Homo sapiens: one gene and its partner. The protein of the gene in region 2 interacts with the protein of the main gene of each other region in a pairwise test. Each region holds a gene or a part of one and is shown on either strand. Other genes may lie near its edges.

What was found.
Region 1: the proteins of RP9 (region 2) and CIRSR interact in a two-hybrid assay, tested with the Homo sapiens proteins (one study listed by BioGRID).

Annotation. Positions count from the first base shown.
Region 1 is NC_000002.12:174,378,709-174,386,001, forward strand, and holds part of CIRSR (corepressor interacting with RBPJ 1), read right to left. Parts: intron 3,070-7,293; coding exon 2,996-3,069; intron 2,107-2,995; coding exon 2,096-2,106; intron 2,008-2,095; coding exon 1,943-2,007; intron 1,543-1,942; coding exon 1,494-1,542; intron 333-1,493; coding exon 215-332; intron 1-214. UniProt on the Homo sapiens protein: May modulate splice site selection during alternative splicing of pre-mRNAs. Regulates transcription and acts as corepressor for RBPJ. Recruits RBPJ to the Sin3-histone deacetylase complex (HDAC). Required for RBPJ-mediated repression of transcription.
Region 2 is NC_000007.14:33,094,281-33,099,681, forward strand, and holds the end of RP9 (retinitis pigmentosa 9 protein), read right to left. Parts: intron 5,157-5,401; coding exon 5,027-5,156; intron 3,083-5,026; coding exon 2,991-3,082; intron 2,275-2,990; coding exon 2,213-2,274; intron 1,153-2,212; coding exon 954-1,152; 3' UTR 517-953; downstream 1-516. UniProt on the Homo sapiens protein: Is thought to be a target protein for the PIM1 kinase. May play some roles in B-cell proliferation in association with PIM1.

The DNA of each region.
Region 1 (7,293 bases), on a different chromosome or scaffold from region 2:
AATTAAACTTAATCCTATTACACAGCATTTTAATTCAACATATATGATCAGAGTTTCCCATTAATCATATTTTGGGAATGGTCTTAGTCAAAAACAAACAAACAAGCCCCACACACAAACCCAAATAAAACAATACCCAGAAAGAGTAAAGAAAAATGTTGTTTTATCTTTCCTTGTTTGTCCTCTCCCGAAACAAATCATGTCTAGTGCCTACCTGAGCCATCAGTGGGAACCGAACTTGCATTGATTCCAGAAAGACCAAACAAAGGACATTCTCGATCTGTGTTGACATGACCCCATTTGTGACATTTAATGCACCTCACATTTCGAACCTGAGAAATAATGAATGTGATTTTGGTTACTAAAAAAGTAAGAATCTAACCAATGTTCAAATTCCTATTCCTTGATAGAATTTAAGCTAAATTACATTTTTAAAAGATCTCCAGGGAAAAAGACTCCAAACTATGTTTGGTAATTTAATACAAAGACTAAAATCTTTCACTATAAATTTTGCCTAGAAACTAAGCTGAATCCCATTTCTTTTTGCCTCTCACTTGGTGGCAATATAATGTCATCCAAAAAGAAATGGTAAAATACCAAAAAGAATTAGGGCGTTATGTGAAGAATTTAAGCTTAAATTCTCTCATTTTAATAAGTAAACCTTTAAAGTTTCAAATTTCAAAACCTGGAGCTGGTAAACATTTTCTGTAAAGGTCCAAATGTAGTCAATATTTTAGGCTTTTTGGGACAGATGTTGTCTATTCTAACGACTCAACTCTGCTGCTGCAGTGGGAAAGCAGCCACAGCCAATAAGTAAATGAATAGGCAAAGCGGTGTTCCAATAAAACTTTCTTTACAAGGATTTGCCCTCTGATGATAGTCTGTCCCGATTCTAAACCAATAATAGATTTAAATCTTTTCTTGACCTTGAGCTGATTCTCCAAATTTTTTGAAAACTGCAGAGACCAATATCATTATAGCTCTCACTATAAAAGTTTGATTCCTGTCTTTTTTTTTTTTTTTTTTTTTTTTTGAGATGGAGTCTCGCTCTATTGCCCAGGCTGGAGTGCAATGGTGCAGTCTCGGCTCACTGCAACCTCCACCTCCTGGGTTCCAGCGATTCTCCTGCCTCAGCCTCCTGAGTAGCTGGGATTACAGGCGCCTGCCACCATGGCTAGCTAATTTTTTGCATTTTTAGTAGAGACAGGGTTTCACCATGTCGGCCTGGCTGGTCTCGAACTCCTGACCTTGTGATCCGCCCGCCTCGGCCTCCCAAAGCGCTGAAATTACAGGCATGAGCCACCACACCCAGCCTGATTTCTGTCTTTTATCAGCCTACTACATTTTATGTTTTCTCCTCTATTCCTTATATTATCTGATACAAATAAAAACCATAGTGCCCCTTTTCAGCTTAAACACCTTTTAGACAACAATATAAAGATACATTTATTAAATAAAAATTATTCTTACAGAGTAAAATATGTGTCACTTGCCTGAATACCAAAGGGCTGATCTCTGATGTTCATGTCATCTTTGGCATATCTATTAAATAGAGGAAATGTACAAACACAATATTAAGAATAATTTAAAAAATTAAACAGCAGTTAATCAGAAAAATAGTTTTACAGTTCTAAGAACATTATGAAATATATTACTTCAGTAAGAATACAGAACTATAAAATCTATCTAGTATTTCCAAACACCATTTAGTTATTATGTGTCTAGTCTGATAATTTGTGATATTAAAAAAATGAAAAAGTATATAAAACAAAAGACTATGAGCAAGCAGATTAGTTGAATAAGACAGCTAATTAAAATCATTAAAGATAACTTTTCACATCAGTTGCCTCCTCTAATGATTGAAAAAGCAACATAAGATGGGATATCAGTAAATGTAAACTTAATGATACATATCTTGTCTTAAAAGTAAACCAGTCCTTACTTTTCTCGTGGGGCTCCTTTCTGCCATTCAAATTTGTATTCGGTCTCTCCTTCTGTTTCTTCTTTCTAAAAACATTCATTGAAAATTCTTTTAATTTTTCCATATAATACAATCAACTGCAAGTAAATTCAGACATAGAAAATAGTACTTTACCTCTTTGTTTTCTTGATTGCATATCAAAAATATGGAAGAAAAAAGGTATGACAAGTTAAAAACTTCAATATAAAAATCTACTGTATACACTATGATATCATGTTATTTAATTGTCACTTGTAAGAATTCATTGGTTTGACTTTTTTTCTTCTTTCACATGATAAAAATTCAGACTATTGCAGGACAAAATACAAAATTAAAATTAATAAGTATGTTAATTCACAGTTTTTAAACTTTTCACTGTTCATTGACAGTGAATATTATGTTTTTTATTTACAAATGCATTAAATATTTAGTAAGAAGGACTAAAGATACATATGCAAATTATTAAAGAATAAGTGTACTTTGGACATGAAAGTTTCTTCCTTCTCAAAGGGCACATTATGAAATATTATCAGATTAGAAAGATATTTTTTAGTATTTATTCTGTTGTATGATTATAGTTTTTATTATCTTCACAGGATAACAGCAATTTTAAAAGATGGAGAGCAACTTTAAAAAAATATCTGTCATAGTACTTTTCCATGTTTAGCTGCAAACACATCAAAGACTTAAAAGAAAAGGAAGGAGGCCAGGTGCGGTGGCTCACGCTTGTAATCCCAGCACTTTGGGAGGCCGAGGTAGGTGGATCACGAGGTCAGGAGTTCAAGACCAGCCTGGCCAACATGGTGAAACTCTGTCTCTATTAAAGATACAAAAATTAGCCAGGCGTGGTGGCGTGCTCCTGTAATCCCAACTACTCGGGAGGCTGAGGCAGGAGAATTGCTCCAACTCAGGAGGTGGATGGAGGTTGTAGTGTGCTGAGATGGCACCACTGCACTCCAGCCTGGACGACAGGGCAAGACTGTGCCTCAGAAAAAAAAAAAAGAAAGAAAAAAAGAAACGGAAGAAGATAAGTACCTTTTTTAGCTCCTGGTGGGGCTTCATACATGAAATTAAGGCCATTCTTTACACGTTCATCTCCCATAAGCAATCTAAGTGAAACAAGACAAAGTTAACGATTTTATGTAGGACAAAAAAAAAAATTATAGAATAATCCACTCCCCACCAAAAAGCCTAAGGGAATTAAGATAAAATATTTTTGTTAGAAACAGAGTTCTAAAACTTTACTCCACTAACTAGATTACATCTGAATGGAAATTAAACAGTGCTGTCTCTTTAGTAACTAGTTATAAGCTCTGAGACTTTCTTACTACCTGAGAGATCCTACCCATCCTAACAAAAAAGGGGAAAAATAACATGGTCATTTTTCTTACAGGATTTTCTTAAACCCTGAAATGCTGTGGAAATTATGACAACTTTGAAATCCCATATGCCATCACAAATTTACAATTAAGTTAAATAGTGCCAACACTTTTTCTTGATTGTAAGGGATCAAACGGTTTTGTTTTTTCCCACCAAAAAAAGAAAAGGCAAAGGAATCAGTTTTGGAAAAAATAAGTCTCTCAGGGATTTCTTTAGGAAGTCAAATCCAATCAGGGCTTGTAAGAGTCACAGTAAATGAGAAAATAAAATTCTTTCGTGAGGCCAGTGAAAAAAGAATAAAAGTCTGCAGCTGGGCACAGTGGCTCACACCTGTAATCCCAGCACGCTGGGAGGCCAAAGCAAGTAGATCACCTGAGGTCAGGAGTTTGAGACCAGCCTGGTCAACATGCAGAAACCCCGTCTCTACCAAAAATACAAAAATTAGCCAGGCGTAGTGCTGCGTGCCTGTAATCCCAGCTACTCGGGAGGCTGAGGCAGGAGAATCACTTGAATGTGGGAGGCGGAGGTTGCAGTGAGCCGAGATCGTGCCACTGGACTCCAGCCTGGGCGACAGAGCCAGGCTCTGTCTCAAAAACAACAATAGCAAAAAAGTCTACACATGCCAAGTAGTATGATGGACTCAGTGTCTGGTGCATGACAAAAATCACATTCTTTATAGTTCTGTTTTAACACTCAAAGTTCCCTGTTTGAGCTCTGTTTAAAAAAAGATACACTAGGCTTTTTAGAAAAAAAAAGCTCTGTAACAAATGGAATGACTGGTTCAGTCAAAGTTTTAATTCATAAGATCCAAGTAAAAATAATAAAGAAGGAGGCTAAAGAGTGAATATAATTTCTCCTTATATTTGGAAAAGACAATCACAAAGGATATATGACATGAGTATAATTCCTCTCCTTATATCCACTGGATTCTATAAAGACCTGTAAAAAAGAAGCAAAAGGCCACAGGGATCTACATCCAATATATGTAGATATAAATAGAGTGATATTCAGCAATAAAAGGGACTGAAGTACTAGTATATGCAATACCGTGGGTCAACTTCAAAAGCATTATGCTATGTGAAAGAAGCCAGTCACAAAAGACCACATGACATATGATCTAATTTATAGGTCATGTCCAGAATAGGTAAATCTATAGAGACAGCAAGTAAATTAGTGGCTGCTCAGTGCTGAGAGGTAGAAGGAGAAAAAGGCAGGGGAATGAGAAGTGACTGCTAATGGGTAGAAGATTTCTTTTTTGGATAATGCAAATGTTCTGAAATTAGATTACAGTGATGGCTCCAAAAGTCTAAATATACTTAAAAACAACAAACACTTTAAACAGGTGTATAAGTTACATTTTAAATTCACATCATTAAAAATATCAAAATCAGCTGGGCACGGGGGCTCACATCTGTAATCCCAGCACTTTGGGAGGCTGAGGCGGGTGGATCACCTCAGGTCAGGAGTTCGAGACCAGCTTGGCCAACATGGTGAAACTCCGTCTCTACTAAAAATACAAAAATTAGCCGGGCGTGGTGGCAGGCACCTGTAGTCCCAGCTATTTGGGAGGCTGAGGCACAAAAATCGCTTGAACCTCGCAGGCAGAGGTTGGAGTGAGCCGAGATCGCACCACTGCACTCCAGGCTGGGTGATAGAGTGAGACTCCGTCTCAAAAAAAAAAAAAAAAAAAAATCAAAATCAAATACACTGAAAGCCAAGCTCGGTATCACTAGTTATTAGGGAAATGCAAATCAAAATCACAATGAGATATCACCTTGCACCTACTGGCTAGCTATCTTCCAAAAAAAAAAAAAAAAAAGAAAATAACAAATGTTAGAGAGGATATGGAGAAACTGAAACCCAAGTCCATTACTAGTAGGAAATGTAAAATTGTGTAGTCACTGTGACAACCAGTTTCATGGTTCCTCAAAACGCTAAATATAAACCTACCATGTGATCCAGCAATTCCACTCCTAGGTATATACCCAAAGGAACTAAAAACAAGGACTTGACCAGGTATTTCTATGCCAATGTTTATAGCAGCATTATTCACAATAGCCAAAAGGTGGAAGTAACCCAATACTCAAACAGATGGATAAACAAAATGTGGTATGTACATACAAAAGAGAATTATTCAGCCACAAAAAGGAATACAGTGCTGATACATATTACAACATATATGAACCTTGGACACATTATACTAAGTGAAACAAGCCAGACACAAAGGAACAAATATATGATTCAATTTATATGAGGCATTTAGAATAGGCAAATTCATAGACACAGAAAGTAGAATGGTGGTTGCCAGGGGCTGTGGGCCAAGGGGAATAGGGAATTATTCTTTAATGGTTTAATGGTTACAAAGTTTCTGTTTGAGATAACGAAAAAGTTTTGGAAATGATGATGGTTCACCACACTGAATTTAAGGGTACACTGAATTGCACACTTAAAATGGTAAATTTTATGCAATATATATTTTACAAAAAAACCCACAGACAAACCATTTCATTTATATGTGTATTTTTTATTTATTTCTCTTTGTTTTTTGGGGTTTTTTTTAGAGACAAAGTCTCACTATGTTGCCCATGCTGGTCTCAAACTCCTGGACTCAAGCAATCCTCCTGCCACAAAGTGTTGGGATTACAGGCATAAGCCATTGTGCCCAGCCCAATTCATTTATATTGAAAAAAAATAATAATAAAACCCAAACTAAAAGATTGTTTTCCACTTTATGCAAAATTCAAGACATATATAAAATAAAAGGTAAAGGTATAATATTGGTATTTTTGTTTCAACCTCAACTGAAAATTTACATAGATTTTTTTGACATCCCATAAAATCTTTGTATGTATCTAGACAGAATAATAAATGTGATTTTCAGCTGGGCATGGCGGCTCATGCCTGTAATCCCAGCACTTTGGGAGGCCAAGGCGGGAGGATTGCTTGAGTCCAGGAGTTCAAGATCAGACTGATCAACACAGTGAGTGAGAGACCCTGTCTCTACAAAAAAGAAAAAATTAGCTGGGTGTGGTGGTGTGTGCCTGTAGTTCCAGCTATTCAGGAGACCGAAGCAGGAGGATCGCTTGAACCCAGAAGTTTGAGGCTGCAGTGAGACATAATCATACCACTGCACTCCAGCCTGGGCAACAGAGTGAGACCTTCCTCTCAAAAAAAAAAAAAAAAAAAAAATTTTTTTTTTCATCTTAGGAAAAAAGTATAAAGCGACTAAGGTGATTGATATAATAAACATTAAGAAATCTCTAGGACAGTAAAAACAAAAGAGAAACAATAGATTACTGAAGAATGAAATTGGCTATCAAAAACAGTACTTTTGAATGAGGAAGAAATAAACACTTGGCAAATGACCAATTACTCATAAATTTGCATTCAAATGACCAAACCTAGAAGTAATAATATCTTAGTAGCAATGAACACACTTAGTGCTCAGATCGTGGTTTCTAAATATCATTCACCAATGAAAGGAATCTGGGTGCCTAAGAAAACTGGTTGATTCCAATGCTGCAGCAGGGAAAATAAAAGACGAGTCTGACCACCTTGTGGGACCAGAAGCAGCATTAAAAAAACAAAACAAAACAGGGTTGGTGCATGTTAAATGGATATACGAGCCAATCTAACAGAGCTCTCAATGGCCCAAACTGAAACAACTGGAGCAAGAAAATAAGTAACAATAGTATTATATTATAATCCAAAGAATTAAATAAACAGCCATGAGTCCATATTGATAGAAAATTAATAGTAACTAGATAAGGGAAATTCTTCCTTACAGAGGAATTCAAATTAATAAATGTAGAGGGAATGATAGAAATAGAAAATAACCATTAGAACATCACAGAAATATATAATTGATGCAAGCAAGATCTACTGATGAATACCAAAATTAGGCAAAAGTCCAAGGAGAAACAGGGTATTTGCAGGGCTTCAAATATTAATTA
Region 2 (5,401 bases):
ATGGTTCTGTCTCTATGGAACATGTGCAGACTCTCTTTCTTGCCCTTATTCCCTAAACAATACATTATAACAACTATTTACATTGTATTAGGTGTTAGAAGTGATCTACAGATGAATTAAAGTATATGGGAAGATGTGTGTAGGGAACAGGCAAATAGCACGCCATTTAATATAAGGGACTTGGGCATCCACGGATTTTGGTATCTGTGAGGGATTGAGGGAGTTGGTCCTGGATCCAACCCCCTCAGATACTGACCACTGTAAGGTTCATACTTCTAAGTTTAAAATGTAACTATGTGTGAGTGAATGTGGATAGCATTTGCTAAGAAAAGCCCTGTACTTACTTGTGATATATAAAATATTCACAAGAAACTAGTACCACTGGTAGACATTGGGGAAGGTAACTGGAGTGGAAAGGAAGAAAGTAGAGTTTTCATGATTAAATATTATGTACCTTTTAAATTTGTATTAGGTATTATTTGTACTTATGTATTATTCATAAATAAATACATTCCATTTAAAAAATAAATAATGAGCTTTTATTATTCTCAACAACAGAGAAGACTCCAGCCTGATGTCTATGGGACCTGAGTCCACACTGTGGAGGGCACAAGCTGTGGGAGGGCCTGGAAGACACGCCTCAGAGATTCTCCCAGTCCTGCCACCCTGTGGGAGACACTTCAAAGGAATCGTAAACTCATGTGACCAGCAGGGAGGACAACGATGAAGAAACTTTCCTGCCTAAAATCAGCTGCTGTCCAGAGCTAGCACCTGGAAGGAGACACTCCCTCTCCTGGGGTCACATCTTCACTGCAAGGCGGGTGGGAGCTCACTGCTGTGACCCACATATACTCCTCTCTCGGCGTCTCTATCCTGCTGCTTTCTCTGACTGCATCTTCCTCTGTTCCTTGGTCAGTGTTTGAGAAGAGAATGTTGAACAAGTCACATCCTTGTCACTCTGAGTCAGAACCCTCATTTGACTTGGAAGATTTGTGCTTCCGTTTTTTCTTCTTTTTCTTTTCTTTCTTCCTTTTCTTATGCTTTTCTTTCTTCTTCTTTTTCTTGTGTTTCTCTTTACCTTCAGAGGAACTGGAGCTGCTCCTATCTTCATCTGAGGTAGAATCCTCCAGTAACTGTTTTAACTGCTGTATCCTAAACATTCAAAATTGATCAAAGAACAGTGAGTTTTAGCTTTAACTTACAACAGTTGCTTAGATAAATATGTCATTCAAAAGCAGTATAGGATGATGAATAACCATGTCACAAAGACAGTATTTTTATTTTTACCTGTTTTCTCATTCTTCTCCACCTGAATGCCTACTTTACGTGACTGAAACCAGTGTACAAGCCACTTTGTATTCTTTTTATTGTCCTAGACATTTCTGCATGTTTCCACAGTCCTTACAATTGTAATTTCTAACAGACGCATACTTTACTAAACCATTCCCCTACTGCTCAATTTCTTAATCTACATCTTTAACAGTTATAATGCCACCAATTTGAAAAAACAAACCCTCCAATTTTTTCCACCTCTCTCTAATCATGTCTAATTTTTTTCTTTTTTTTTTAGAGACAGGGTCTTCCTCTGTCACCTAGGCTGGAGTGCAGTGGTGCAATCATGGCTTACTGCAGCCTCAACCTACTGGGGTCAAGTAGATCCTCCCACCTCATCCTCCCGAGTGGCTGGAACTACAGGTGCGTGCTGCCATACTTGGCTACTTTTTATATTTTTTTGTAAAGATGGGGTTTTGCTGTATGGCCCAGGCTGGTCTCAAACGCCTGGACTTCAGCGATCCGCTGGCCTCGGCCTCCCAAAGTGTTAGGATTACAGGTGTGAGCCACTGAGCCTGGCCTAAGTATAATTTTTAACAAAAGCTCACATCCCTAAAGACTCTGGAGAAGATAAACTGAATCACATGAAAATATCAATTATACTGTACAAGTAGACAGCACAACATGGGTTGCCAACATCAACTGCAGTGGCCAGAGAGCTGGACCAAGCCCATGGCTTTAAGTTAACCCAAGGAGGAGGAGGCTGGCCTGCTCATTCCCCAACACTGGCCTTTTCAGCCATGACTCCTGCACTCCACATATTTTCACAATTGAAGTACCATGTTTACTGCACCATTCCTCTAACACTAGAGTGGTTTTCTCCAACTTTATATAATTTTAAAACTTTAAGGGGATATTGTTATCATCAGGACGACCTCACCTTACGTCCTTTTCATGTCGTTTATTGTCTCGTATGATGTCATACATGGGATCTTCATGTGCCTTAAGGGTCAGAGAAGGTTAAGGTTTGGTTAGGCTTCATGGATCACAAGTTAAATACAATGAAATGCCTATGTTATGAAAACCAGTTTATTTTTTTTTTTACTGTTTGATGTAGCTGCATGTTCAACATGTTCTAGGTCACATCACTGAAAACTCATTAAGGCTAAAAAATGGATTTTCCAATTAGAAAAATACAGGAAATGGCTACTCTCAGCACACTGTCTTTGGGGTAGCCCTGCTCTGCAGGAGCAATCACAGAGCTATAACACTGCCACCTCAAAAACAAAGAAAAATACAGGGAATAACTGTCATCTAAAGAAAAAATATACGGACACTTTAATCTTACAGTTTAAAGACATGTACTCTTTAAAGACCGGGAAATTAAATCCCTGATTTCAGTCATGAAACATGACTTTTTTACACAGTAAATTTTAAAAAGTGCGGTTGAATAGATAACAATGTCTGTTTCAGAAAAAAAATCACTGTTCCAAGTTACAAACAAAGATCACTTTAATAAGAATTCCTTTTTTTTGTAAAAGAGCTAATTTGTCATACAAATGTAATTTAATAAGCATGTAGTTAACAGCACACACTTTGGTCAAAGGGCTTCTGGGAATGTATTTTATGTGACCATTCAAGTTCACTGGTGACTTTCTGCTTCACTGATTTTCACTATCTCTGATAAATGTAAATTGACACTCTTGGACTTTACTTACCACTCTGAACTGCTCTAACTTTTGGTTGCCTTTGATAAAGAAAGGGCATTCTTTGTCACCCGTTCGGTGACCATAGCGTTTGCAACGCCAACCTAAAAACGAAAAGAGAAATATTTCTGTAAGATAACAGTTTCACCTACTCAAGATAAAGAATCAGCAGAATATATTCAAGTTTTTCTTCATTAAACTCTAATTCTAAAACAAAATATAATTATGGACAAGCCATGTAAGATCCCAGAAACAGAGGTAAACTAATTGCTTCCCCAAGCATCCTTTAGTCTTATACCTTTAGGAATAATATTCTATCACCAAGTATTTATGAAGCAATCCAATGGAGAATTACTTCAAAAGGTGAATTTTTTTTTTTGAGATGGAGTCCTGCTCTGTCGCTCAGGCTGGAGTGCAGTGGCGTGATCTCAGCTCACTGCAACCTCTGCCTCCTGGGTTCAAGATATTCTTCTATTTCAGCCTCCTGGGTAGCTGGGATTACAGGTGCGTACCACCACACCCAGCTAATTTTTGTATTTTTAGCAGAGATGGGGTTTTGCCATGTTGCCCAGGCTGGTCTTCAACTCCTGACCTCAGGTGATCCGCCCGCCTCAGCCTCCCAAAGTGCTGGGATTACAGGCGTGAGCCACCACGCCCGGCCCAAAAGGTACATTTTTTTTAAAGTGTGTTTCAGTATATTTTTCAGAGTAAATGTTTTCATAAAGTATCTCTGCTTCTCATTTACTATTTTAGACACTATAAAAGCTTCTTTCTCAGGTTGAGTCTGTTCAAAACTCTCACTTTTAAGTAAATAAAATCACAAGTTCTCTTAGAATATTAATGGTGGCTGGGCACAGTGGCTCCTACCTGTAATCCTAGCACTTTGGGAGGCAGAGGCGGGTAGATCGCTTGAGGCCAGGAGTTCGAGACTAGCTTAGGCAACATGGTGAAACCCTATCTCTACAAAAGTACAAAAAAATTAGCTAAGCCTGGTGGCGCATGCCTGTAGTCCCAGCTATCTCAGAGGCTGATGTGAGATCACCTGATTCTGGGAGGTTGAGGCTGCAGTAAGTTGTGATCACACCACTGCACTCCAGCCCGGGTGACAGAGTGAGACCCTGTTTTCCTGACCCTGGTAGAAGGTTGTTTAATGTGTGGAAAAGGTAAAACAGAGGGTCTCTGGCCAGGGAGACCAGGGAGACATCAGGTAGGTCTGAAGGAAGCTGCTGCAATAGCCACAAAGGGTCACACGAATGAATGAAAAGCAGATGGACACATTTCCAGACTCCCTCCACTCGGCTCCCAGAACACTCATAGTATGGCTTTCCCTCCACGTGGGAGCCTTCTCTGGGAAAATATAACCCACCCAAAGAAGAAAAACCGATAGATACTGAACTCTGAGGCACGTTGTCTTTGCTTTTAACAAATAATCAAGGCAATGAAGCATTCCCATCAAAATTCTCAAGGAAACTGATTTTTAAATTAGAATTCAATATCCTGGTAGTTAAAAATCTGTTAAAGACGATTCCAGAAAAGTAAAGGTCTTAACATTTTTATCTTCTATAAACCCATTTTGAAGGTAACAGCCATAGGATTTGTTACACCATAAGGAGAGAATATGATAATAAAGAAGACTCAAGACACAGGAAAATGGGTGATCCAACACGGGAGAGAGGCTAAGGGGACCTGCAGAAAGATGGTGTCTTAGTCAGCTCGGGCTGACATAACAAAATGCCGTATTCTGGGTGGCCTAAACAACAGAAACTGGTTTTCTCATTCATTCTGTAGGTTGGAAATCTGAGATCAGGGTCCCAGCAAGGTGGGTTTGTGGTGAGAGCTTTCTTCCTGGCTTAAGATGACAGCCCTCTTTCTTCTTCACATGGCACGGTGGTGGGGGGTGGGGTGGATGCTTCCTTATCTAGAAGATGGAGAACGTGCCTTGGCTGTAAGAGGGCTGTGATGAGAACAAGTTAAATAAAAGAAGTAAACACTCTTTGTAAATTGAGGCATGTAAGTTGCATGGATTAGGGAAACTCTCCCACACTCACACTGCATAACTTTGACTTCTTTCCCCAGTGGCATCCAAAGTCCTTTAGTTGGTGCATGAGCCAGAAATTCCCTGGCGTGTTCATTGCCTGGTACATCTGGTATGCAATCTTCTGGCTTAGTCTCATCTTCCTAAAAAAGGGAACAGGTATAAACAGCATGGCAAGAGCGCTGGGATTCTCTCCTGCTCCCCTTGGAGCCACCCTTGCCTGGCTTTTTCCTGGGCTTCCGGTGCCAACATCATCTTAGTTACCCCTCAAAACTAGAAAAAAAGACAAGTTACACCTGATTGAAAAAACAGGAAACAAATGTACCAGAAGAACTATACCAAAAACAATGTAGCTGTTCTTAGAGAAAAGTTACTGGTGAAGCAGAAA